Linked DNA regions of Homo sapiens. The protein of the gene in region 2 interacts with the protein of the main gene of each other region in a biochemical or structural test. Each region holds a gene or a part of one and is shown on either strand. Other genes may lie near its edges. The genes, in order: TSPOAP1, KHDRBS1, NPHP1, DOCK3, SPATA13, DHX9 and ARHGEF4.

Evidence for each region.
Region 1: the proteins of KHDRBS1 (region 2) and TSPOAP1 interact in a test that uses a peptide from one of them, tested with the Homo sapiens proteins (one study listed by BioGRID).
Region 3: the proteins of KHDRBS1 (region 2) and NPHP1 interact in a test that uses a peptide from one of them, tested with the Homo sapiens proteins (one study listed by BioGRID).
Region 4: the proteins of KHDRBS1 (region 2) and DOCK3 interact in a test that uses a peptide from one of them, tested with the Homo sapiens proteins (one study listed by BioGRID).
Region 5: the proteins of KHDRBS1 (region 2) and SPATA13 interact in a test that uses a peptide from one of them, tested with the Homo sapiens proteins (one study listed by BioGRID).
Region 6: the proteins of KHDRBS1 (region 2) and DHX9 form a complex in vitro, tested with the Homo sapiens proteins (one study listed by BioGRID).
Region 7: the proteins of KHDRBS1 (region 2) and ARHGEF4 interact in a test that uses a peptide from one of them, tested with the Homo sapiens proteins (one study listed by BioGRID).

Annotation. Positions count from the first base shown.
Region 1 is NC_000017.11:58,304,796-58,308,295, forward strand, and holds part of TSPOAP1 (peripheral-type benzodiazepine receptor-associated protein 1), read right to left. Parts: intron 3,147-3,500; coding exon 3,047-3,146; intron 2,968-3,046; coding exon 2,816-2,967; intron 2,174-2,815; coding exon 2,005-2,173; intron 1,619-2,004; coding exon 1,547-1,618; intron 1,071-1,546; coding exon 1,038-1,070; intron 849-1,037; coding exon 745-848; intron 664-744; coding exon 592-663; intron 377-591; coding exon 266-376; intron 1-265. UniProt on the Homo sapiens protein: Required for synaptic transmission regulation. It probably controls the recruitement of voltage-gated calcium channels to the presynaptic membrane, and modulates neurotransmitter release.
Region 2 is NC_000001.11:32,037,868-32,041,122, reverse strand, and holds part of KHDRBS1 (KH domain-containing, RNA-binding, signal transduction-associated protein 1), read right to left. Parts: coding exon 3,087-3,255; exon of another isoform or gene 3,004-3,086; intron 2,572-3,003; coding exon 2,504-2,571; intron 1,609-2,503; coding exon 1,550-1,608; intron 1-1,549. UniProt on the Homo sapiens protein: Recruited and tyrosine phosphorylated by several receptor systems, for example the T-cell, leptin and insulin receptors. Once phosphorylated, functions as an adapter protein in signal transduction cascades by binding to SH2 and SH3 domain-containing proteins.
Region 3 is NC_000002.12:110,128,514-110,132,013, forward strand, and holds part of NPHP1 (nephrocystin-1), read right to left. Parts: intron 3,279-3,500; coding exon 3,166-3,278; intron 747-3,165; coding exon 673-746; intron 1-672. UniProt on the Homo sapiens protein: Together with BCAR1 it may play a role in the control of epithelial cell polarity. Involved in the organization of apical junctions in kidney cells together with NPHP4 and RPGRIP1L/NPHP8. Does not seem to be strictly required for ciliogenesis.
Region 4 is NC_000003.12:50,677,927-50,681,426, forward strand, and holds part of DOCK3 (dedicator of cytokinesis protein 3), read left to right. Parts: intron 1-3,500. UniProt on the Homo sapiens protein: Potential guanine nucleotide exchange factor (GEF). GEF proteins activate some small GTPases by exchanging bound GDP for free GTP.
Region 5 is NC_000013.11:24,163,720-24,167,219, reverse strand, and holds part of SPATA13 (spermatogenesis-associated protein 13), read right to left. Parts: intron 1-3,500. UniProt on the Homo sapiens protein: Acts as a guanine nucleotide exchange factor (GEF) for RHOA, RAC1 and CDC42 GTPases. Regulates cell migration and adhesion assembly and disassembly through a RAC1, PI3K, RHOA and AKT1-dependent mechanism.
Region 6 is NC_000001.11:182,856,347-182,859,846, reverse strand, and holds part of DHX9 (ATP-dependent RNA helicase A), read right to left. Parts: intron 3,316-3,500; coding exon 3,269-3,315; intron 1,744-3,268; coding exon 1,607-1,743; intron 1,297-1,606; coding exon 1,207-1,296; intron 1,115-1,206; coding exon 953-1,114; intron 808-952; coding exon 730-807; intron 1-729. UniProt on the Homo sapiens protein: Multifunctional ATP-dependent nucleic acid helicase that unwinds DNA and RNA in a 3' to 5' direction and that plays important roles in many processes, such as DNA replication, transcriptional activation, post-transcriptional RNA regulation, mRNA translation and RNA-mediated gene silencing.
Region 7 is NC_000002.12:130,835,453-130,839,713, forward strand, and holds the start of ARHGEF4 (rho guanine nucleotide exchange factor 4), read left to right. Parts: upstream 1-1,461; 5' UTR 1,462-1,501; coding exon 1,502-1,540; exon of another isoform or gene 1,541-1,542; intron 1,543-4,261. UniProt on the Homo sapiens protein: Acts as a guanine nucleotide exchange factor (GEF) for RHOA, RAC1 and CDC42 GTPases. Binding of APC may activate RAC1 GEF activity. The APC-ARHGEF4 complex seems to be involved in cell migration as well as in E-cadherin-mediated cell-cell adhesion.

The DNA.
Region 1 (3,500 bases), on a different chromosome or scaffold from region 2:
GTCAGCCACCAGGTGTTGGCAGCTGGCGAGATGGCCTGAGGGTCAGGGTCACAGCTATCATCCCTCTGCAGAGAGGGGCACATACTGGGGGGCAGCTGCTTGGTGGGGCTCCCCTCTGGTGGTCAATTAGCGGCTGCACGCTGGACACAGTGCTTACCTGCATGACCACCCCAGCTGCACCCCTGCCGCAACACTGCCCTGGCCCTACCACCCCACCAGTAGGGTAGACTGCCCTGCCAAGCTGGGAGCCCAGCTCCTCACTGACCTGACTCTCAGCCTGGGGTGTCCTGGGTTCCCTGTCCAGGCCGCCTGCCTCAGGCCCAGGGCCCTCCAGGAAGTTGGATGGAACCAGGCCCCTTTGTCCATTTAATTCCCCCTGGAGAGAAGAGGCCGGTGAGACTGAGATCAGGAAAGAGGCTCTGGCCCTGCCCCTCGACTCTGATGCCCCTGGGGAACAGCTGGGGCCAAAACCACTGTCCAGGGAGGTGACCCGTTCCATTCCTCCGGACTTCCTGAGGGTTCCTTGCCTATCCCCCTGTCCGAAGTCTGGGGGGCTGGGATATGGTACACCCTCCCCAACAATGTTCTCACATAGTAGAAACCGTCATCGTCCATGCCCCCAAACACAGTAATGACATCCCCTGCCCGGAAGGGCAGCTCTGCCTGTGGAAAACAAGAGGAGGGCATCAGGCCCAGGAAGGCTCTGCCACCGCCCTTTGCTGGGCTCTATCTGAGGGTCCTCACCTCCACGTCCATATTGGGGGAACTCTCCTGGGGGTTGTAGTCAAATGCAGCCACCATGGAGTGGGGAGCTTTCAGGTCAGCAGAGGGGACCAGCTTAGGGGGGCCTGCAGGGGGAGTAGGAGAAGACTCTGGACTCTCTGGAGAGCCCTACACCCCATCCTGTCTTCTGCCCCGGACCCCTGCTGACCCCCTGTCACCACCTCCCCACTAGCTGTAGCCAATGGGGCGAGGCCAGAGGGGCCACCCACCCTATCTCCTTCCCCAGCCTCCCGGGCCCAGGGATATTCCTTCACCTGGACAGGGCTGGGCAGGGCCTTCCGACTCAGCTGTGGAAAGAATGTGCCTGTGAGCCCCCTCCCACCCTGCCCACCCAGGCTGCAGGTGCTGCAGCGCAGGCCAGACACTCGCCCACACACAAGGAGGCAGGCAAGGAAGGCTGCCGAGGGCGCATCTCCCCAACCCTTTTGTGTGGCAGTGAACTAACACCCAGAAAGGGTAAATGGCACGCTCTGGGATTCACGGATTTTATAGTCAGGTGCCTGTGGGAACAGAGAGCTCCACAAACCATCCCTCATCCCCACCGGAACAAAGCCCCCCATGGGGGGAGGCAGGGGATGTGGGTGGTCTGCCGATTCCCTTTACCTGCTCAAAAACCCAGAGGTGCCTCCCCAGACAGCCAAGCAGCGCCACCCACCAGCACACACATCCTCCCAGCACCTGAGAGAAAACAGACAGCCAAGCAGCGCCACCCCACCGCACACACATCCTCCCAGCACCTGAGAGAGAATGGGGTCTTACCCACCTTTCTTGGAGCGGCGGGGCTTGGGAGGAGGCCCAGTTGTGTGGGCTGTGGAGTACACAAACGGACCATTCCCTGATCCAGAAAAGCAGAGAGAAAGCGAGGCAGGGGAGGTGGGAGAGACAGGACTGGGACTCTGGAGTTTCCTCTCAGGGCCGTGCTAGGTTACTGAGCTTGTTTCGTAAGGGCATTCATCTCCCATCCCTGACAAGAGCCCCACCCAACCTCCAGGACCCAAAATTCCTGGCTGCATGGCTGTATTCCCCTCTGCAACAGACGCCCACTCCACGCGGCCAGCCCACGTACAGTCTGACCACTACGCAGCAGGGTTCAAGGCAGGCTCCAAGGCTCTGCTAGAGTCTGGGTAAGTGGGAGCACCCCAGACACAACAATTGCTCAGGGTCAGGTGGAGTTGGAAGGGGGCTGGTGGGAGGTGGGTGAGGGACAGCAGCAGGTCATACCTGAGCCCTCAAGGAGAATATCTGGGGACAAATAACCCCGCTGGAGCAGTTGCTGTCTCCCAGCAGGGCTGTCCACAGCCACCTCAGCCACCATGTTGCAGGGAATGTAGCCTGTCCGGCCCCCACCTTCGCCCTGGTAGAAGCCATCGGCATCCTTGTCCCCAAACACCTGGAGGCAAAACCAGTGGTCTCAGCCAGTTCTGCTCACTCCCTATGCCCCTAGGCCCCGAACCCCAGCAACACCCCACTTGGAAATGCAGAAGAATGTTCTCCCTTTTGTATGCCATGAAATGGGAAAAGGGGGAAAACAGCAAAGAACAGGATCAGAGGGATAGGAGAAGACAGCCCTTTCTGTATTATCCCCATTCACTGTCTACATGGCCATGCCCTTTGCCCACCCCAGAATGGATCTCCTTAGTCTCAGAGCAATAGCAAAATGCCTTTAATCAATACTTGGAGGAGTAATAAAAATAGTAATGTCAGCAGCAGATAGTTAGATTGTGCTGCCTATGTCTCAGGCAGTTTAAGCACTTTATGTACATTGGATCATTTAATCCACAAAACACCCTGTGAGGTAGACACTAATATTATCCCCATTTTACCAAAAAGAAAACTGAGGCCCAGGGGGCCTAGGTAATCTACTCAAGGTTACACAGCTAGAAGCAGCAGAGTCAGGTCCAAACCCATGTCATCTGCTCTAGAAGCCATGTTCTCCACCATGATTCTGTGCTACCTCCAGTGGAGGAAAGGAGGGAGGAGGGAAGACCCAGCTGGTGTTTGGAATTCTGAGCCCTGATGGCGAATCAGTCACCTTCAGGATCTGACCCTCTCGGAAGGGAAGCTCTTCTTCTCCAGCATCAGGATTGGGCGACATTGACACGGGGTCATAGTCAAACAGAGCCACAAAGATCCTGACGGGTAGGTGCTGGTAAGCCAGTGTTTCTGAGGGGCTCCTCGCAGGGACTGTGGAGACAGTGGAGAGGGCGGTGACGCAGCGAGCTCTGGCCGAGCAGCTCTAGCTCCAGCCCCATCAGGTGCTCACCTAGCTCTGCAGTGCTTGGCCTGAGGACTCGGACACCTCTCTTCTGGGGGCCCCTCCGCCCAGAGCCGTCCTGCCCTCTGGCCTCTCCGGTCTCTGTTGCCTGCAAAAAGAGGGCAACAGATGGCAAAAGTAACACACCATCCCTCTGGTGGGCTCGTGCTCCCCCAGCTCTGCCCCATCAGCGTAAGCAGCACAGCAGCGCAGGAGCACAGCATTCCTCTCCCGGAGCCTCGGCCCAGCCTGCTGGAGACCTCAGACACCCCCACAGTGGGAGGGAGGGCAGGAGGGGAGGCCCCAGCCCCAGCCTGCGAGTAGATGAATGGAGTAGAGGGGACTGGAGTTGGCTGAGGAGCCCGCGAGAGGAGGGCCTCCCGTCAGCATCAGGGCAGGTAACCCTGGACATGGCATCACAGTCAGCGTCCTGAAGCCATTACTAGCTATGCAGAGGAAAGGG
Region 2 (3,255 bases):
GTGGCAACGTCGTATCAGGAGCACAAAGAGAAGCCTGCCTCTTTCAGTTTGGTCTTTTCTCCAGCAAAACAGAAATGCAATTTAGTCAAACACATACAGAGGCCCCACTGTACTGCCTCACTGATGGAGGGAAATACTTGGGTGCAATCACACACAGTGTTAGTGATTGGCAACTGTCCAGTGCTATTTCGCTAAAACTGGTAAAAACAGTTTCCTTGGGCAAGCAGCTGATTGGCTACTTCATACTGTGCTGAGTTGGGCTCAGCTTGTCTGTCTCTGGGAGGCCCTAAGGGGCTCCTCTTTTTCAGCTAGGGATAAGGGGAGACTGTCAACCAGTATCTTAGCGTGAACTGTCAATCGCTGAGCCCCTGCCAAGGACTCTCTGGAAGTCCCTCAGGTATGCTGAAAATACCTTATACTGAAAAGGTAGCTCTCGCTGCATCCACTGCCACATAGTATTCCCAGTGAGGCCTATTAACACAGGGCCATAACTGGCTCTTGAGGACACACTTGAGCGATGTGTTTTTAACCAAACCTCAGGGAAGGCAGCCTTGTCCTGCTGCTGTTGCAGCCTCCATAGCTCTCTTGGGATCAAGGACTGTGTTGATGTCTTCAAGCCAACAAGGAGCTTGGTGCCAGTACTGTCCTGAATTATTGGCTCTAGCCCCTACAGCCTCTAATCTGATTCTAATAGGCACTATTTTTTTTTTTTGAGACGGACTTTTGTTGCCCAGGCTGGAGTGCAATGGCACGGTCTCAGCTCGTTGCAACCTCCGCCTCCCAGGTTCAAGTGATTCTCATGCCTCAGCCTCCCAAGTAGCTGAGATTAAAGGCGCCCACCACCACACCTGGCTAATTTTTTTGTATTTTTAGTAGAGACAGGGTTTCACCATCTTGGCCAGGCTGGTCTCGAACTCCTGACCACAGGTGATCCGCCTGCCTCGGCCTCGCAAAGTGTTGGGATTACAGGCATGAGCCACCACGCCCGGCCCTAATAGGCACTATTCTTGCCCCGCAACCTGGTCTGGCTAGCTGCTTGCCATCTAGGTCCCTTTCAGCTGACATTTCCTTTACAATGACATTCTTTTCAATGAGATCTAAATTTTTTTTTTAATGAAATGGGGTAGATGAGTACAGTTGTGTACGATTAAGTTCTTGTTATCTACCAAAGTGGCCTAGATATCGGCAGCAAAGGCCCAGAAATACAACCCAGGTCTAGCTATTTCCCTGCCTAAAGTAGAAAAAAAATAACATTAGCTTATAAGTCTGCTGCTCCAACCAGGGCCAAGCTGGTCTTGAGCCCTTGTTTAAGACAAACACTACCCTTCCAAGAGTAACGATACCCCACCTCACTTTAGCAGTCCCTCTTTCTACCATGTACCGCAAAATTTAAGCAAGAGCAGAACTCTTACTGTCACATCTAGCAAAATCTTGGCCTTCTAAAGGTTTATCCGTAGGTGTGTTTGTCTGACTCTCAATACTTTAGTCACCAGCATTCTCCCAGGCACTTACTTGTACATTCTGCCCCACCACAGAGATAAAGACATACCATAAGCTTCATAAGAATCTTGAACCTCCCCATGTCCATAGTCATAATATTCTGAGTCCCTGAAAGCCAAAGGCAGAGTGTTAGGAAGCTACAGAGTAACTATGTTTCAACTTTCTCTCAAATACTTCCATAAGTCAGTCATTTTACTAAGTGTATTAATACAGGAAAATACTCATTCTGCCCCATCCCTAAACCGTAAAGTATTTCCAAAATATGTATAGACTATGTACTTATAAAATAATTGACAACTATTGCAAAGAAAAATGGATACCACAGAATATAAAGTGAAAAAGCACAATCCTAAATTGACCCTTTTAATATAGCATATATATACATGTATTCATAGGGCTCACCAGAAGGAAAAAAGAACTGTTTTATCACTGCTGTAGAATTCTGGAACTCTTTTTCAATCAATTCACAGGTAAGCTATATATATGGACACACAAGGAAATGGTCTTAAAGAGAAATGCAGAAAAGAACCTAAGTTATGGTAATGGAATTCAAGTTTCTTGTAAAATTTTATGGAGCTTTAATGTGGTTTTGATATTTTAAAATAATAAATCAAAATAACATAAAGGCATTTCTCCTTGTTTCCATGTAGTCACAGCTTGGAAATTTTTCATTTGTTACTCTCAGGTTCTAAATTATAATTTAAGGTTCACAGTTATCCAGATTTACAAATCCAAGTGTGTGCTTCACAGATGTCAAACGCAGAGGAAAGCATTGCATGGTGGCACGCACCTGTAACCCCAGCTACTAGAGAGAGCTAAAGTGGGAGGACTGCTTGAGCTCAAGAGTTCAAGACCAGTCAGGACTGTGGGGGTTGCAGAGGAGATACCCTCAAAAGGCGAACCATTCTGCTCCTTAGGGTTGTACTGTCTAAATCTCTCTGTTCCTCCAACTCCCTCCATCCATCCTCAGGACAAAAAACAGTGCTTATACTGCCTGACTCACCCTTGACTCTGGCTGTAATAGCCTTCGTAGCCTTCGTAACTTTGTTCTGCGTATGTATCATCATATCCCTAGAACAACAACAACAAAAAAATGAAATAAAAGATCAAAATCATAGAGAGTAGGAAAGGTAATTACATCCCATGGGAGTAAGTAGGCTTCTGAATTAAAAGGACATGACATTTCCCTCCAAAATGTTAATGCCTACTGTAGAATAGTCAAAAGAGAAAGGGTTACTAAACAAAGAAAACCCAAACAAATATGATATGCCACAGAAGAAGTGTGGGCAGGAAGTAAAGTACAAAATCGAGCTTTAGTATTATCAGTACTAGTAGTAAGAAATTCATTATAAAATACTACATTAAAGTACATTTTATTTCTTGTTTAATCTACAGGCGTATAGTAAAACCCTGCCTAAAATGGAAAAATCTTCTAATAGTTCAACATTCACTGCAAGAGAAGAGGGCAGATTGCAAATCTTACAGGCAGTCCATGACACCTACATAAAGGACCGAGGCCCTGTCATTCAACTTCCTTTAGCAGCCTTCTAGGTACTGGGAAATGGCACATTGTTCAAATTTCTTACATATTCTTCATATGTTTCTGGTGCAGGAGGTGGAGGCAAAGGTATCCTCTGGATGCCCGCTGTCCGTGCTCTTGGTGCTGGAGCACCCCTCACAGTAGGTGGGGGTGGCACGCCTCGAGTCACAGTGGCACCTCTGGTGATGGCTCCCCTTACTGGTGTACCACGTACC
Region 3 (3,500 bases), on a different chromosome or scaffold from region 2:
AATCCTCTTGGCCCTGGCCTTTATTAGGCTCTCTCATGCAGGACCTCTCTAGTGAAACAGAATTTGGATCCTTCTTTGCTGCCTTCTTTAAATCTTCAAGGTCCTGGGTTATACCTCCCCCATGGCACTTGTGATGTTACCTGTGTATCTGCCTTGCATGCATGCAGCTCTTCTACTTATTGACCCTGATGTATTAGGCTAAACCATATGAAACTGCCACTTAGGCCAAAAATGGCTGAAAATTGGAGATTTCATACGATTTAACATAACACTCAACAGTTATTTCAGACAGCAAACAGCACACATGGAATTAAAGATGATGTGCATGCCCTGATTCTCCCCTGCAAATTCAATTGATTTATCTTACAGACCATTTTGGATTTTTGCTCTTAGGACACAATCAGTGGCCATCCTAAGTCAAGGAAAAAATGGGCAAAGATTGCAATAGTGTACATAGCAGGCACTCCACCTGCTCCCTGGGTCAGGGAAGGCAGCCCTTGGGAATTTATGCTAAGATGGGAAAGATGAGGACTGAGTTACCTAGACAATGGATAGGGATTGGGAGACATCATCCTAGTAACAAAAAAAAAGGCCTAGACAGAACTCATTAACACAGAGTGTATAACTGCTTCCATAAGCCAGCAGGTTTCCATTGCAATGCATGCTACCCACCCTGAGAGCATCCATCACATCAGGCTGCTCCAAGAGCATGGGGAAGGTGGCCAGCATGGGATGGCTAATTAAATCTGAAATGCAAAACAACAGAAAGAATTTTATGCAAACTTCACTCAATGGATTTTATTGCAATAGACACAAAAATATTCAGATGAAAATTATTGTGCCAAATGATTTGTTGATAACACATTCTACACACTTTGACTTCTAGGAGAGCTCAAAGCTGTCCCTTCAACCTTCATTTGCCCCTATACCCATATCCTGGTGAGTTCCTGTACCAAATTAATGGAGCTTTTAGAGTAAGGGCAAGGAGGCTCTGAACAGAATAAGACTAGAAAATTTTGTTCTGTGTTTTTCTTCAACTTCTCTTTCTTCCTTATGGCTGTGGCATGGTAAAAGGAATCTTCCCCTTAGAGGTAGCCCTGCTCTTGGGAGACTGAGCAGAAACTAGGAAGCATTGGGGGGAAAGGAGACAGAGGACCTGCTGCTCAGGTCTGATTCCAGGCCACCAGCGCTCAGGGAAGGACCCAAACTTGTGTCTGGAGCCAGCAGACAGTGGTAGGTGAAACTGGAAGAATTAGGAATTGAGGATTCTGGCCATATGACCAAACACAGTGAGGGAGAATATTGACATTTCACAATAGATAACAGCACATGAAAAATCTGTGCAAAGAAGCACATCAGGAAAGACATGTCTTAGTCTGTTTGCGCTGCTGTAGTGGAATACCTGAGACTGGGTAACATAAACAAAATAAAATTATTTCTCCAAGTTCTGGAGGCTGGGAAATCCAAGATCAAGGTAATGGCATTTGGTGTCTGGTAAGGGCCTTCTTACAACATCCTCCAGAGGGGAGGAACACTGTGCCATCACGTGGCTGAAGGCAAAAGGGTGAGACGAATTCCCTTGTCAAGCCCTTCTGTAAGGGTCTCTAATCCCATTCATAAGGCAACAGCCCTCATGGCCTAATCGCCACTCAAAGGCCCCACTTTTCAATACCATTACATTGGTAACATGAATTTTAGATGGGACACACTGAAACCATAGCAGACACTTTTGAAATGGCAAGGGCAAGGTATTCTATAATCTGGTGTCCTCAGTAGAGAAAAATTCATTCTTTAGATATTATTAGGATATTTTATTCTAATGATTAAATTCAAATGAAGTCAACAATTCTGAGTAAACTTCTTACCTATTGGGAAAACTAACAAGCCTTATCCTCTTTAAGAGGTCACATCATTCATGAAGTTTCTCAAGAGTCATGAAAATGAATTCAAAGGCAATGGTGATTAAAAGGCTTACCCGTCCTCCCCCTTAGAGTTATAATGATTCCTTGAGAACTTTCTGCGCTTCTCTGCCTTTGAGTTCCACTTCTACCTATCTATCCAGGTGATAAGTCCCTGGGAGAGGACTCCTGCCTATGAATGTTATTTGTCCACAAGTGCTAAGCCTCTCACTCACTCTGCTCCATCCATACTGGCCTGCCTCAATTTCAAGCCCTCCAACACATGCATGTCTTCTTTCCTTGGGTCTTCAGACATGCTGGCCCCTCTACCCAGAAAGAATCCTTCCCCACACACTTCCCTCATAGGTCTAATTCCTCTCTCACATCTTTTGTTAAATATTACTCACTCAAAGAAGCCTTTCCTTACCCTACACATTAATCAAGTCTTCCCAGTGCATGTTCTCGTTGTGTATTTTCCTTCACAGCACTTATTTCAAAAGGGTGGAGAGGATTATTCATGAAATTATGTGTTTGAGGCCTGGGACGCCTATGCCTGTCTCATTCATCACTGGGCCTAGCATAATATCTGGCACATACCAGGTACTCAGTACATATCTGGTTACTGATTTATTGAACTGAAAGAAGAGCCAATACAATTAAACTGCTTTTCTTTTTGAAGGCAATTACTATAACACATGCATTTATCTTTGCAGGTTCAATCATGTATGGTGACTCATTGATTTTTAAACTTATTTTTTAACATTTTACTTGGTAAAAATTTCAAACGTACAAAAAAGTTGCAAGAATAAAGACAGTACATAGGACACCCAAATACTCCATATCTGGATTCACCAATTTAAACTAATCCATTTGATACTTATACTTCATGCACTAAGAACCAGCTATTTTGGTTGATTTTGGTTTCTCTTCAAAATGATTATGTGCATACCAAACACATGGGAAAAAACAGATTACTCAGAGACATTAAGGGAAAATATGACTATATCTGACTCTTGGGATCTCAAAACTCTAGAATTTGAAATGTGAAAATACATATGTTTGAAAGAACTGAATATGTGTCGAGTTCACAAAGCTCAATGCTTTGGATCTGAAGATGTCCCATAAGTAATGTATTAACATCAATGCTGTTCTAAATATTTTATTCCAAAAGTCACAACCAGAAACAGAAGATACAAGATGGTATAGGTTACCTTTACTCAGAGTATGAAGCATTACTGCACATAAGGAAGTGGCAAAGCCCACTTACCAGTACTTTGCAAGCTCATCCTGTCTTTCAGGAGCACATCTCCAAGAATTTGTCGATAAAATATCAACAAGTGAATAGAACACATATTTCCAATTAATGTTTCTGGCAGTAGACTATTAAAGAAGAAAAAAATGTATTCATTAGACAATCCCCTACAATCCAACTTATAATGTTTTGATGTATATTACTTTAATAAACAGTCCCAAATTTTGCTTCATTACTGGAACACATTTTTAACTATTTAAAGAAAAATTTCTACTACAAGTAGGCCACATTAAATTTCAGATAACTTTTTATATTTGTTTACACTTTCGAGTCTCAACCCTGTGTTGCCA
Region 4 (3,500 bases), on a different chromosome or scaffold from region 2:
GGACATTATCCTTTCTGAGGGTCAGTGATAGGCCTGTCAGTGTGCCTGGGACTCTCACTTAGGTAACCCCATGTCGATTCCCAGAGTAGTCTTAATGTTATCATTATTACACAGATAAAGAAACTGGATCCCAAAGGTTGTTAATTTTTTTTTTTTTGTCCTTCAACGATTGTATATTTTTCTTAATTTTCTTCTTGGCAGTGGGCAGTATTTTGTGAAATACTTGACTGTCTTGCTTTCTTTTTGTGGTACTGTAAGGTACTGTTCTTTACTGTACCCGTTCGCCCGTGTTTTGACTTCTTATGTCCCTTTCCCTCTTAGAGAATCTCTGCTTTCCTTTCTGTTGCCATGAATGCTTGGAAAGTCCTGCATCCTTCCATTCTTTATTCTACCTTTCCAAGAAGCTTCCTGCTCTAAAGTGTATTAGGTGAGAAAAATCCAGCTATTTTTGTGAAACACCTGTCTTTCCCTATACTGACTGTACCCAGAGTACCAAATATAGAATACAAAAACCAAGAAAATGCTTTTCTCACCCTCTAACAGGAGCAACAGCAGGAGCAGCAAGCACCAACAGTTTTTAAAACAAAAATGTTTGTAATTACACTCCTTGAATAGAAAAGTGGTAAAGGTTTGAGTACATAGGTATTAGTTTGACGTCTTAGAAGTGGAAGCTGCTTCAGAAGGTCATCTTGTTTATTCTGCTGCTGTCATTAGGCAATTTTTTTTTTTTGAGAGGTGGGGTCCTGCTCTTGTCATCCAGGCTGGAGTGCAGCGGCATGATCATAGCTTACTGCAGCCTTGAACTCCTGGGCTCAAGCGATCCCCCTGCAGCAGTCTCCCAAGTAGCTGGGACTACAGGTGTTTACTACCTTGCCTGCCTAATTTTTTTTTTTCTTTTTTTGAGACGGAGTCTTGCTCTGTCGTCCAGGCTGGAGTGCAGTGGCGTGATCTCGGCTCACTGCAAGCTCTGCCTCCCAGGTTCATGCCATTCTCCTGCCTCAGCCTCCCGAGTAGCTGGGACTACAGGTGCCCGCCACCATGCCCGGCTAATTTTGTTTTTGTATTTTTAGTAGAGATGAGGTTTCACCATGTTAGCCAGGAGGGCCTCAATCTCCTGACCTTGTGATCCGCTCGCCTCGGCCTCCCGAAGTGCTGGGATTACAGGCATGAACCACTGCGCCCAGCCTTGCCTGGCTAATTTTTAAATTTTAATTAAAAAAAATTTTTTTTAGTGACATGGTCTTGCTATGTTGCCCAGGCTTGTCTCAAACTGCTGGCTTCAAGCTATCCTCCCACCTCAGCCTCCCAAGTCACTGGGATTATACCTGTGAGCCACTGTGCCCAGCTAAGGCAAATTTTTGAGTAATTTAGGGCATTTATTGCTTATTTTTTATTAATCCCTCTTAGTAGAACATGAAAAATTTTTCTCATTACCAATCTGAAGACCTTACATTTTAGTTTTGTAATGTTATATTTATTTTTTCCTATTTAAAAAGTAATGCGTATTTTATGCATTATTTTTACCTAACTTCCTTTTGGTTAGGTTTCTCCAGATAGGGAAGAAAAGCACTTAAAAACAAACAAACAAACAAACAAACAAATCCTGAGTCCTTAAAAGAAACTTGTAAAGATCCTGTGGTGCAGGAAAAGAATCTGAAGGTGGGGAGGAAATAGATCCTTGAAACCAGATCTGGAAGAATTAGTGTTCACAAAATTTGAGTAAATCTGTTGGTAAATGGACTAGAACTCACCAAAATAGTCTGAAGACAGTGTGCTCTTTAGTTATTTATTCAGTGAGGGAAGCCCAACCTTTGCAACCTCTGGAAGGGCCCCAATACCCCTTTAGAGGTAAAGACATCATCCACTAGGGGTAGGAAAGATTTCATAGACCTATGACTTTATTTTGTTCTGAAAAGTGAGGATGTGCTTGATGTCTTGTTTAGTGTTTATGGGGAACTTCCTTATTCATGATTCTACTTGAGCTTTACACTATATCACCACCTCTCCCCTCTTTTTTAAACAGATGAGAAAGAAGCTTTAGCTGAGAGAAATTAAGTAACTGATCTAAGATACTTTAGATAGTAAGTGCTGAGTTGAGATTTGAACCTAGGACTTTGAGATTCTAAGCCACAGATTGTATTATTACACCGTGTCCTCTGAAAGGAATTGTCAGTAGTATATGACTGTGGCTTGAAAGATAAGACATACTCTGCAGTTTTCAATTTAAACTGGATAGTTATATTTAAGGAATTTTATTTCTGTATTGGACTATTTTTTTCTTTTTCTTTCTTTTTTTTTTTTTTTAGACAGAGTCTTGCCGTGATGCCCAGGTTGGAGTGCAATGGGGTGATCTCGGCTCACTGCAACCTTCGCTTCCTGGGTTCAAGCGATTCTTCTGTCTCAGCCTTCTGAGTAGCTGGGATTACAGGTGTGCGCCGCCACACCTGGCTAATTCTTTTCTATTTTTAGTAGAGACGGGGTTTCACCATATTGGCCAGGCCGGTCTCGAGCTCCTGACCTCAAGTGATCTGCCCGTCTTGACCTCTCAAAGTGCTGGGATTACAGGCATGAGCCACCGTGCCCTGCTTTTTTTTTTTTTTTTTTTTTTTTAAGACGAGGTCTTGCTATGTCACCCAGGCTTGTGTGCTATGGCATGATCGTAGCTCATGGTAACCTTGAACTCCTGGGCTCAAGCCATCCTCTCCAGTAGCTAGGACAACAGGTCCATGCCACCATGCCCAGCGAATTTTTAATTTTTTTTTTTTATAGAGACTGGGTCTTGCTATTTTACTCAGGCTGGTCTTGAGCTCCTGGCCTCAAGAGACCCTCCCTCCTGGGGAGTGGCGGGTTTACAGGTATGAGCCACTGTGCCCAGCCTGTTGCCTACTTTTTAATGGGATTATTTGGTTTTGCTGCTGAGTTCCTTGTATATTCTGTATATTAGTCCCTTATCAGATAAATAGTTTGCAAATATTTTCTCCCATTCTGTAGATTGTCTCTTTACTCTTTTTCCTTTGCTGTGCAGAAGCTTTTAGTTTAATGTAGCCCCATTTGTCTATTTTTGTTTTTGTGGCCTGTGCTTTTGAGGTCTTAGTCATAAAATCTTTGCCTAGACCAATGTCCTGAAGCATTTTCCCTATGTTTTCTTTTAGTAGGTTTATAGTTTTGGGTCTTATGTTTAAGTTTTTAATCATCTTAAGTCTATTCAGTAGACTTCAGATTTCTAGTTCGTTTTATCATGCAGTATTAGAATATGATTTAGAAACATTAAGCTAAATTGTAAACATGGCACCTATTTCTGTGTAGTATTAGATGCATTCTGAAGCAGGGCAGTCTCAAAAGAATGGTCATTGAGGTTGAAAGTACTTTAACCTTCATAGCATATTTTTACATTGGTGCTAAATTTTAATTTTTAATAGTTTGTATTTTGAATTTTTTAAAATTTTTGTGTCTTTATTCTTTAAGAATGATCTGAAATTATTCCCAACATGTAAGCATTA
Region 5 (3,500 bases), on a different chromosome or scaffold from region 2:
CACACACACAAAGCACTTCCTGCGTGATGGCCAGGACACTCTGGCATTTTACAAGGATCAATTCATGGAATCCTCACCTATGACAGTGGTTCCCAAACTTGACTACGCTTGGGAAGCTTTCAAAAATTTCAACACATAGGTCATACCCCAAACCAATCATAACATTTGAAGGTAAGAGTAGGCACCAATGTATTTAAAGGCACCCTGGTAATTCAAACATGCAGCAAAGGTTTTGAAACTCTGAGAGATGGGAACTGCTACGGTCTGAATGTATGTGTCCCTCCAAAATTTTGATGTTGAAATTTAAACCCCAAGGTGATGATGTGAAGAAGTGGGTCCTTTTGGAACTGATTAAATCATGAGGGCTCCCCTCTCGTGAAGGAGATTAATGCCCTCATAAAAGAGGATTACCATTCTCTGCAAATACTATGAGGCAGACATGGAGAGTAGCTGTTCAGAGCCTCCAGGAAGCATATGCTCTAAAACAGTGGCTTTCAAATATTTCTGTGGTTGAAAAACATGTAGAAGGCATGTTAAAAAACAGATTGCTGGGCCCCACTCACAGAACTAATTTATAGGTCTGGTGGGAGCCCTAGAATTTACTTTCCTAACAAACCCCCAAGTGTTGCTGATGCTAGAACCATGCCCTAGGCACACAGACTCAGTCATGACTGATGTGCTTGGGGCTATAGTGATACAGATGTTCAAGGGTCCCTCAAGTCACCAAGCTGGAGCCCATCTCCTCACCTCTGTTTACGCCGTCCCCCAGGGCTAGAAGGTTTTCCTTTGTCAGCTCCTTCCCTAATTGCTCACTCCTCTGTTAGGATTCAGCCCACACTGGACTCAGCTCCTCCTCCAGGAAGCCTTCCTGGATCTTTGAACTCTCATCTTCTCCCCTAACTGACTGCCACACTCACTACTTTTCACTGCTTTGCTTTTACATATGGGCCTCTCCCTCTAGACAAGAATATGAGTCTCTTCATGAAAATGGGACTGTCTCTGATCAATCTCTCCATCTTCAGCATCTAGTACACAAAAGATACACAGTAAGTATTACATATACATTTATGCTTACAAACCAGCATGAAGTATCATCGGTATTACACTTGTGATAGCAGAATCTGCAAATCCACATAAATCCCTAAATAGGCCATTCCTGATGAATGAGAAAGACTTTTATACGTTACAGAAGAGCACTCCACCCCCCAGGAAGGGTGGAAGTGGAGCACATTTCTGAACCAGAGGCTATTTTTCTTTTAGCTATAGAGTCACAACACACAACCCGGATGTGTTTAAAAGTACATGTGCAAGTTGTTTAGGACTCAGGGCACATTTACCAATCTCTACATCACCCATGGTGACTAAGAGCTAGGGCCTGACCTAAGAATCCTGTGTAATGAGACTGAATTGTCGCATTAACACTCAAGTACAATGGACTGTTCCTATCACACAGAGCAACATTTTCTGCAAAAGATGTGATCAACGTTCTGATCAGCAATACCACAACACATCTCATTGCCAGCCTCCTGCCCCCATTGGAATAAGACAATAAAAGCCTGCCCTCCCCGTGCATCTGTCCCAGACAGTGAGTAAAGATGTCCCCTTTCCTGCTGCTAAAGTTGGAGTTGGGGTGGGTGGGGGGTGCAACCGGGAAGGGCTGAGAGAGGAGAAGAGGGCAGGAGACTGGGTGGCCCAGGAACCCAGGAAGGCAGCTTGCCTCCCTCCATTGAAACTCTCCAGTCTGGCCATTTCGGACCTGTGCTCTACTTCTCTCTAAGGAGAGCTTGCCAGTGTTAAGAAACAAAGCCTGCTCTGGTATGAATGGGGGTGGAGGGGAAAGGCTGGCCCTTCCCCTCTCCTGGATTGGACAGGTAGAGTCCTCTTGGAGGGTGCAGATGGATGCTGGTGGGTCTTCAGGGCAGACCTGGCATGCTGGGGTGGGAGACAGTCTGAGGCAGGCACAGAATCCCTCAAGTGACAATGTCTGCGCTCTCGTGATTCCACAAAGACTAGGGCAGTCCCGCTTCAGGGAAATGGGTGGAAGTGATTGCTCACCAAGAAGTCAGGTCCTTTAAGGTCCTGGTTCACTGAAGCAACAGCCCCATTTCCGAGATGCTGGAACATGATGACCACAGGACAGCCATTACCTGTGTCCACCGAAGCTGACATCCTGACCACAGCACATGGCCACAACCACATACATATACAGGAAACACAGACGCCATTCTCCTTGCATTCTGCGGTGTTGCCACAGCTCCCCAGGGTTCTTGCAGGCACAGAGGGCATCGTCCACAACCCCGAAGTTAGCGCGACGGCTGGACTGGGAACTCCTCTGAGCCCTCAGGCTCTTGTCCCCTGGTCCCCTGGTCTCTCCTCTCCAGCTTCACCTTCAGCTCAGCACACAGGAGCTATCGATGTTGTGAAAGGTTCTGTGGTGCCGTTTCTGCCTCAGGGAGTTACAGGTTAGAGGGAAGACAGACACACCGAGGGATGCAGGTGGATCTCCTAAGCCAGGCAGCCCGGGGTCCAGTCTCAGTCTTGCCACTTACTATGGGGCTCTGGCCACGACAGCTTCCCTGAACCTCCATCTCATTTAGGGAGCAATGAAACTTGACTTGCTCCTCAGTTATAACCATCCTCACCTAAACCACAGAACACAGAGGATACCTCACGCAAATGCTTCCTCCCTTCTCCCCAGGATGGTACCTGATCACCCATCTCATCCTAGGAGGGAGTGATGAAGCCATCACATAGGATGCCTGCCTCAGGGCATCAGGGTTTCATTCTGTCAAGACAGGCTGGTATGGAGGAGGTGAGCATCACAATTCAACAATACCCTGCAGGTTCCCTGGGGAGCCAAAAGAGGCATTAAACATGGAGGGAGCAGAGGCAGGAGCAAGGGGGCTCAGTGGGAGTCCAGAGAAGGATGTGGGTACAGCAGAGGCCAACAGAAAAACAGCAACCTACTCTATGCTCCCCCTTTACTGCTCTTTCATTTGTGATGCAAAGATGAGGAAAATCAGGTAAGCACTTTGTACCAATGCATTTCTCTCCACAAATGTAAAATACAATTAAACATTCCAGGTACTGATTTTCAAATTGCCATGTATTATATAGTTTCCCTCAAGAAAACCATGTACATTTGGTGTTCATTCCTGGTGTTTTAGAAATAACAATGATAGTTCTTTCTAAAACATTTGAATTTATACCACTGTGATGTTATGATCCCATTTATGCTATTACATGTCTCATAGGCAAACATTTCTTAAATGTTTAGTTTTCAGACAAAAAAGAAAGGAAAGCACTGATGAGTTCCCCTTCTAAGTGAAACCTTCCAATGCCTCTTAGCTCAAGGGAAAGGAAGGGGAAAGAAACTTTGTTGCTTCCAGCAGCAAACAGAGAGGTCAACCTACCAAGCTATAGGGCCAGGCATTGAGCCCTGAACCAGAGAAGCCTTAGAGCCAACTTTGTCCTGCTGCTTTCCCTTGAATATGCCATTT
Region 6 (3,500 bases), about 150 Mb from region 2:
GAGGTGAGGAGTTCGAGACCAGCCTAGCCAACATGGTGAAACCCCATCTCTACTAAAAATACAAAAATTAGCCAGGTGTGGTGGGGTGTGCCTGTAATCCCACCTACTTGGGACGCTGAGGCAGGAGAATTGCTTGAACCAAGGAGGCGGAGGGTGCAGTGAGCCGAGACTGAGCCACTGTACTCCAGCCTGGGCAACTAAGCGAGACTTTGTCTCAAGAAAAAAACAAACAAAAAAACCAAACTTCCATCTCTATAAAAACTTACTCATTTCCATTGGCTTAGTGATGAAAATGTTTTTTTCAAAAAAGAATGTGTATATTTATATCTCTAATAGAACTACTTCTTTTCACTACACTTCTGAAGAATGTATCTTTTGATGTTGTCCAAAAACTAAATTCTCATTGTCCCTGAAAGTCGCACACGCATTCTTTTTAACATTTTAATTTTTTATTTGGAAAACACTAAAACAAACAAAAAAACCAACAACAAAAGGAGTCACTGCCTTAAATCTCTCCACTTTTATTAAATTACATTAAGAAGTGAAATTCTCTCACAGGCCCTCAACTCATAGCAACTAACTTCAGGGGTAACTAGGATTAGCAGTTTGGTACATATCTTTTGATATGCCCTCCTTAAAAGGGCAAAATGTACTGCTCATTGACTTTTTACCCATACCTAGAACATTCTGAAGCTCTGAGCACTACTTGTCTAAATAATTCAGACTTACTGCTTGCAAATCATGATCCTGTTCCAACTGGTACATCAATTCATTCTTGAGGTCCATGCTTATTTGCTCTGGAGTAGCCTGTAAAACAAAAAGCCAACATAGTCAAACAAAAGCACATAATTCAGCTTCAAAATAAATCCATTTTTTACCTAGACATACTAATCAAATATAGTCTCAAGAGTAAAACACAAGACTCTGATCTCAAAAACAATATTGCACTCACAAAAGCCAGAGGCCCCTCATCAATGTTGCTACTAGTCCAAGGATTCCAGTTGGATTGTGGAGGTGACCAAGGAACCACACCCACTTGGTTTTGTCGCTGAGATGGTTCGAACTGAGCCAATTTGCCAATGTTGAGTGCAACTGGCACAGAAGGATCTTCAGGCTATTAAAAAATAAGAAAAACAAACAAAAAATATGATTTGCTTGTCTACGGAGAGTTCTACGTAAATGTGAACTAAACAGCTTTATGCTTACCGGGGGCAAAATCTCAAGATTTAGCTCTTGAATGATGTTTTGCAGCTGATGCTCTAAATCTTGAGAGAGGTTTACTTTGTAAGGCTCCACCTATGGAAAAAGGATCACACATTAACAACACTACTCAAATCTACTATAATGGGGCTAAGACTATACAGTCAACACTAGGTCTACAATATTCCTAAACCAATAGTCAGTTCCCTTTTGTGAGAGAATTACTTCAATGATTATTTACTCACTGCCTATTATGAACATCATGCCAGACACAGAGATGATTAGCAGGGCCATTTTCATTTCCTGAGGTAAGATTCTTAAAATTAAACTTCTTCAGCCAAACACTAAACAAGAGCTAAATTGAATCTCACACTATCTCACAAGTCTATTAAATCTAAAGACTCACTGTCTCTCCTTCCTTCTTCTTTGTAAGTCCGGAGTAAGCTTCAACCACTCCAAGATGGTACAGTTGTCTGACAAGTGACAGGGCACAGGACTGTGCTGCCAATTTCTTATTTGATCCATGTTCTCGTGCAAAAATCCCTATAATGTAAGGTCAGGATTATCAGACAGAAAGAAATCATCTGAGTAAAGAAACATCTTATCACAAGAAACTATGGGCTTACGTACACAAGAAGCCCTAAAATACAGGGTATGCCATGGCTTCTAGTTCCTTTTTATTCTATTAATATCTGCTAAACAAAAGAAATTGCCAAACAGCTTATCAACTAAATAACCAACAGTTTTGATTACTGGCTGATACTAGGACTCATACAAATCAATATTATGAAAGCAAATAACCTATTTCAACAAAGTTGTCACTGTTAATATCAGACATTAAAATGGGGAAGAAAACATAGTTTGAAAAGACAAAGAGTAAAAAATAAACCAGTAAAAGTAATTGGGTCCAGAGTGGTTACCTAGACCAGGATTTGGGAAACTTTTTCTATAAACGGTCAATTAATAAATATTTTAGGCTTTGCAGGCCATATAGTATCTTGTCACAACTACTCAACTCTGCCTTTAATGTGTGAAAGCAGTCACTGACAACAGAGTTTGATAAACCATAGGACTGGGAATGGCTTTACGTTTTTCAAGAGTTGTAAAAATAAAATGAGAATAACAATGTGTGACCTGTAAAGTCTAAAATGTGAGTGTAGCTATGTTACAATAAAACAGTTCTTATAAAAACAGGCAGTACGCTGGATCTGGCCAGAGGGCTATAGTTTGCTGACCTTAGCATTAAACTAAAGCTAAGTTACTCATATCCTTATAGAAAATATTAACAGAAAGTTTCCTCTCCTCCTGTATCATTCATCCTTAGGAGAGATGAATATAAAGCAAAGGGGTACAAAGGTATCTTTCTGCCTAACTAGCCAAATTAACCTCGATAAGGTAAGTGAGCTGACAGAAGTTAGCCTGCCTTTATCCTCTCTCCCTTAGTATTATCCATCCACTCAAAATAACTCATTGTATATATAAAAATGAAAAAATGTTTAAGACCAGGCACAGTGGCTCACGCCTGTAATCCCAGCACTTTGGGAGGCTGAGCCAGGCAGATCACTAGGTCAGGAGATAGAGACCATCTGCTAACATGGTGAAACCCCGTCTCCACTAAAAACAAAAAATAATCAGCCGGGCTTGGTGGCAGCACCTGTAGTCCCAGCTACTGGGGAGGCTGAGGCAGGAGAATGGCGTGAACCTGGGAGGCGGAGCTTGCAGTGAGCCGAGATCACACCACTGCACTCCAGCCTGGGCGACAGAGCAAGACTCCGTCTCAAAAAACAAAAAAGGTTTAAAATTAATTGACACTGGCAGACTCCTAATCATCCCACTGTGTCTTACCTTTGAAAGATTACACTAACATGGTCTGTTTTCACATGCAAACTGGGAGACTTTGCCTCTAATTTATATAATTACTAATATTCTAAAATATACCCTAGATGCTATCTTACATTATGTGCTCTTTCAAATAATACAGCTTCTGTATACGTGACTCAAGACTTAAAATGTGAAGATTCCTTCTCTATACAGAGACTTGGAATATTGGGGAAACAGTAACACTTACTTCTGCCCAGCTGCTTGATATAAATGGTCATTTCTGCAATAAAGCTCCTGTAACAACATATACAAGCAAGGTTAGAAATTTCACTGTTAGAAACCAGCAAATCCAGGTCTCCCAAGTCAGGCAGGCTTTCCAACTGCTTAGGCAAATCACAGAAAAAAAAAATTACCAACATTTATTTCTGCCCAACCCTAGAACAAATGAAGTATATAAACTTCAAATAATATACAACATG
Region 7 (4,261 bases), on a different chromosome or scaffold from region 2:
GTGAGGTTTAATTTCTCACGTACTCTCCATGGCAACCCCACCAGGCGGTCATTCCTCTCGAATGTTAAAGATACGTGTTTAGAGCAGATGATCATGATTACACAACTGGTGTGCAGCACAGCCAGGTGCCCAGATCCGAATCCCACACCCTCCTCCCACCACCATGGGCCTCAGGGACATGCTTCTAGCACAGTCATGGACCCTGAGTGACATAAAGGCTGTGACAGGGGACGCAGGATCTTCAGATGGCCCCACAGTGCCTCCTCTGAGTATCTATCTCCCAAGCTTCTCGCCTGGCCTGGTTGCTGTGAGGGCCTGGGGAGAGGCAGAGACAGGTTGGGTGTACGGAAAATGCACACTCTGCCAGGCACCCCTGACACGCACTGCTGACCAGGCATAGCGTTCAGTGGGGCTAGGACTTGGACGAGGGTGCAGGCTTGAGCAGGGGTGCAAAAAGCCAGTCTGGGCAGATGCTCTCCCTCTGTGGGGCGCCGATCTCAGAAATGGTGGACAGAGCAGGGCTGCAGTATGGTGCACATGGGCCTTGGGGTCTTAGCTTTCGTGGGCCTCTTCCTGCATAAAATAAAATAGTTAAAATTAGAGTTTACAACTGCATTCATATAAAGATGAATATACTCCAGGCTAGATTCATTATTATTTTATTATACTCAGTTTTTTTCTTCTGATTTAAAATAGTGCGGTCCTAGGGCTGGTTAGAGTGTTTCCTGGCAGGCCCTGTCTCCTTAAACCCCTGCAAAGAAAGCAGCGAGGACTTCCCTTTGCCCCTTAGCAGAAAGCTGCGCTCCTTAATGGTTACGGGTGTGACCATTCACTTACATCCTATCTGCAGGACATACCTGGAAAGGTAAGTGGGAGGCAAGAGGGAGCTGGAGGCCAAGACTTCGGTCCCAGATATCCTAGTCCACATTTGTCCCCACCAGGTGTGTGAGTGCCGGCGCGCTGCACAGCCTCCCTGGGCCTCCGTTTCCTCAACTGGTAAACAAGAACGCTGGGCGGACTGAACTCTGAAAGTTCTGGGAGCTTGACAATCAGAACTCTCAGCAGAGAGGCCGCCCCTGCTCTCAGGAGGGCGGAGGCACCTGAGTCTCCAGTGCGGAGGACAGGCCGAAGCGCTGCGTTGGAGATGTGCAAATGCGCAAGAAGCGTGCTGCTTTCTCTCTGAGAAAACACTCCTAGGCTTCAAGGGGGCCCAAGAGCTCGACTGGGCGGGATGATCCCGGCGGCCCCTGGGCCGGGTCTGTGGACGGCTCTGCTGTGTGCCTGTGCGTGCCCAGTCCCGCGGGTGACCAAAGCCCAGGGGCGGGCAGGGCAGGAGCCTGGACCTCACGTGCCTCCAGTGGCCAGGTTTGCGGGGGCGGAGCGTCCGGGCGAGGGCGCGGGGGCGGACCCTAGGGCGGGGCGCGGGGTGGCGTCGGTGGAGCCGGCTCGGCGGCGCGGCTCGTAGTGCTGCGGCCGGGCTCCGGGCGTCCCGGCGGCCACCATGCTCAGCGTCGTGCACTTCCTCCGGAGCTTCTTCAAGGTGAGAGCCGGCGTCCGGGACTTGCGGTCGGGCTCCCGGCGCCCTGCGCGGGTGGGGAGGAGCACAGCCCGCGCTGGCTGCTGCGCCCCGGGCCGTCCCCTGGGCACCCGGTGGGTGGGGACACCCTCGTGGCTCCCCGCCGCTCCCAACTTTCCGACGTGCAGACCGGAGGCGGCGTCCTGCAAAGTGGGGCCGTCTCGAGCGCGGGGAAGGACGGGGCTCCGTTGGGGGCGGTAGGGACGGCGGCCCGGGGCGAGCCCCTGAGAGGGCAAGGGCGAGCGCCTGAGCCGGCCTCCCCGCACCTGGACCGTCCTGGGCGCGCGGGGCACTCGGAGCCGCTGCCTGGACCGGCCTGGGCGCGCAGGGCACTCGGAGCCTCTGCCGCTTGGCGCAGTACCAGCTGTTTTGGGAAGGAGGGCTGGTGCCGGCCCGGTGGGTACGGGAGAAGTGGTTGCTGTTGTTATTCCCCAGGCTGAGAGTACGCGAGGGCGCAGCAGCGGCAAGGGGCTGGAACTGGGGTCGGGGCTGTTGGGCTCCTGCTCGGGGTGCCCCCTCTCTGGCCCGATTTCCGGGCCCGCTCACCATCCGGGACCCACTCAGTTGGGACGCCTCCACCTCGCTGCCCCCACAGGAACCCCAAGATGGGCCGGGGGCTCCGGGGCACTGTCAGGGGTGGCCGGCCACAGGTTGCCAAGCCCGACCTCCCCAGGTGAGCCAGCGGGAGGGCGGTTGCGACGCTGGGTGGTGCTGAGCTCCGATGGGCTCCTACTCCGGGAGCAACTGCATGAAAGGAGAGGCGGGGAAGAGCCACCAGCTGTCAGCTGCAGGTCCAGGGGGAGGCAGACCTGTGTGGGGCTGTCGGGGCGGGAGGGCGGGAGGGCGCCCTACTTGGCTGTGCAGCCATCTTCTCCCGGAGTTGAAGACGGGAGGTTGAGGTCGGAGTTCTGTGGCCCTGAGAGCTCTAGTGAAAGGGGCAGGAAGCCAGGTGACCCAGGGCAGACCTGCAGGAGCCCTGCCCTCAGCCTATCCGCTGGCCTGGCATCAGCTCCCACCCCCAGCGATAACGAAGTGATCGCTGGCATCAAGAGTGGAGAGGGCCGGACAGCCGGGAAGGCAGCCTTTCAGGAACCTGTGCTGGTGAGTGTAGGAGATGGCTTGGAAGAGCTCAGACCCCCTTCAAATGCCGACTCTGTCATTGAGGAGGTGTACAATCTTGGGACAATCACATAACCACCTGGGTCTTTGTTTTGAAAAATGTGGGTGATGTTTCCATGCCCTCCACACCTTTCAGGGTTAGTGTGAAGGTCTTATTAGAAAATGTGAGTGTGGCCCGGCGCGGTGGCTCATGCCTGTAATCTCAGCACTTTGGGAGGCCGAGTGGGGGGGGCGGATCGCCTGAGGTCACGAGTTCGAGACCAGCCTGGCCAACATGTCAAAACCCCGTCTCTACTAAAAATACAAAAATCAGCCGGGCGCGGTAGTGGGCGCCTGTAATCCCAGCTACTTGGGAGTCTGAGGCAGGAGAATTGCTTGAACCCGGGAGACAGAGGTTGCAGTGAGCCAAGATAGCACCACTGCACTCCAGCATGGGTGATAGAGCGAGACTCCGTCTCAAAAAAAAGAAAAAGAAAAGAAGGAAGGAAGGAAGGAAAGGAAGGAAGGAAGGAGGGAGGGAAGGAAGGAAAGAAACGTGAGTGTGTTTATGAAGTGGTGAGCCCTGGACCTTGGTTCTGCTGCACCCACAGCAAGGGTGGCAAGGAGTTGCCCAGGTGAGGGGAAGATGGCCGGACAGAATCCAAGATGCCTGGGCAGAATCTGAGTCACCCAGCTGGCCCCAGAAGCTCCAGGAGCAGGTGGAGTGTGGCTGGAGGAGAGACCACTGGACATCTCTGGGCAGCCACCTTGCCTGCTGCTGCCTGGGAGGCTCCTGGGATTTGGCCTTTGTGAAAGTATTCCTGACACACACGGTCCTCCAGTTCCCCATCTATTCAGAGAGGCCTTTCCATACTTTCTGCCTCAGGTCCCTGTAGGTCCTGAGACACCTGAGGCCTCCCCATGCACACCACAGGAAGCATCACCTGTGCCCCTCAGAGGGTCTCCTTTCTGCTGTCCACATGGGAGGGGCTCTGACTGCCACAGCAGTCCACTTCTGGCTGTGTGAGTGTGTCTTGCCGAGCCACCGACAACGTAGTTCATACTTGTTCCTCTCAGACACTGGTCGTAAGGAATACCCCGTGAGGACACAGGTTGTGGGGTGGGCAGAGGAGCTACGTGCTTCAGTCACCGCCTGGTGCCTCCTGGTGTCCCCAGGGATTGGTCCTATGAGGTACCCCTGATGATGGGTGCTGGACTGGGCCAGAAAAGGCCACTTCATTCTGGGAACCTCAGATTGTCTGGGTCTCCCAGTCAGACTCTGTTAGCCAAGATGCAGCTAGTCTCCACCAAGCCCAGGAGGAGGACCCCAAGGCCCCAGGTGTGCCTTCTGGTGGCACTTGGTACAGACTCTGTACAGCACACAGATCTGCTTGGGCACGTTGGGCACCGTGGGATCCATGGGGCATGACAGTCGTGTGGCAGAGTCCCTCCCCGTGCAGGCAGACCAGTCGGAGAGCCTGCACCTGCCAGGGGCCCACACAGGTGCGCCGCCTTGGGGGTCACCCAGCAAATGAGTCAGAGGAGCAGCACACCCAAAAGGAAAATATGTTGTCTCAAAAATCCAGA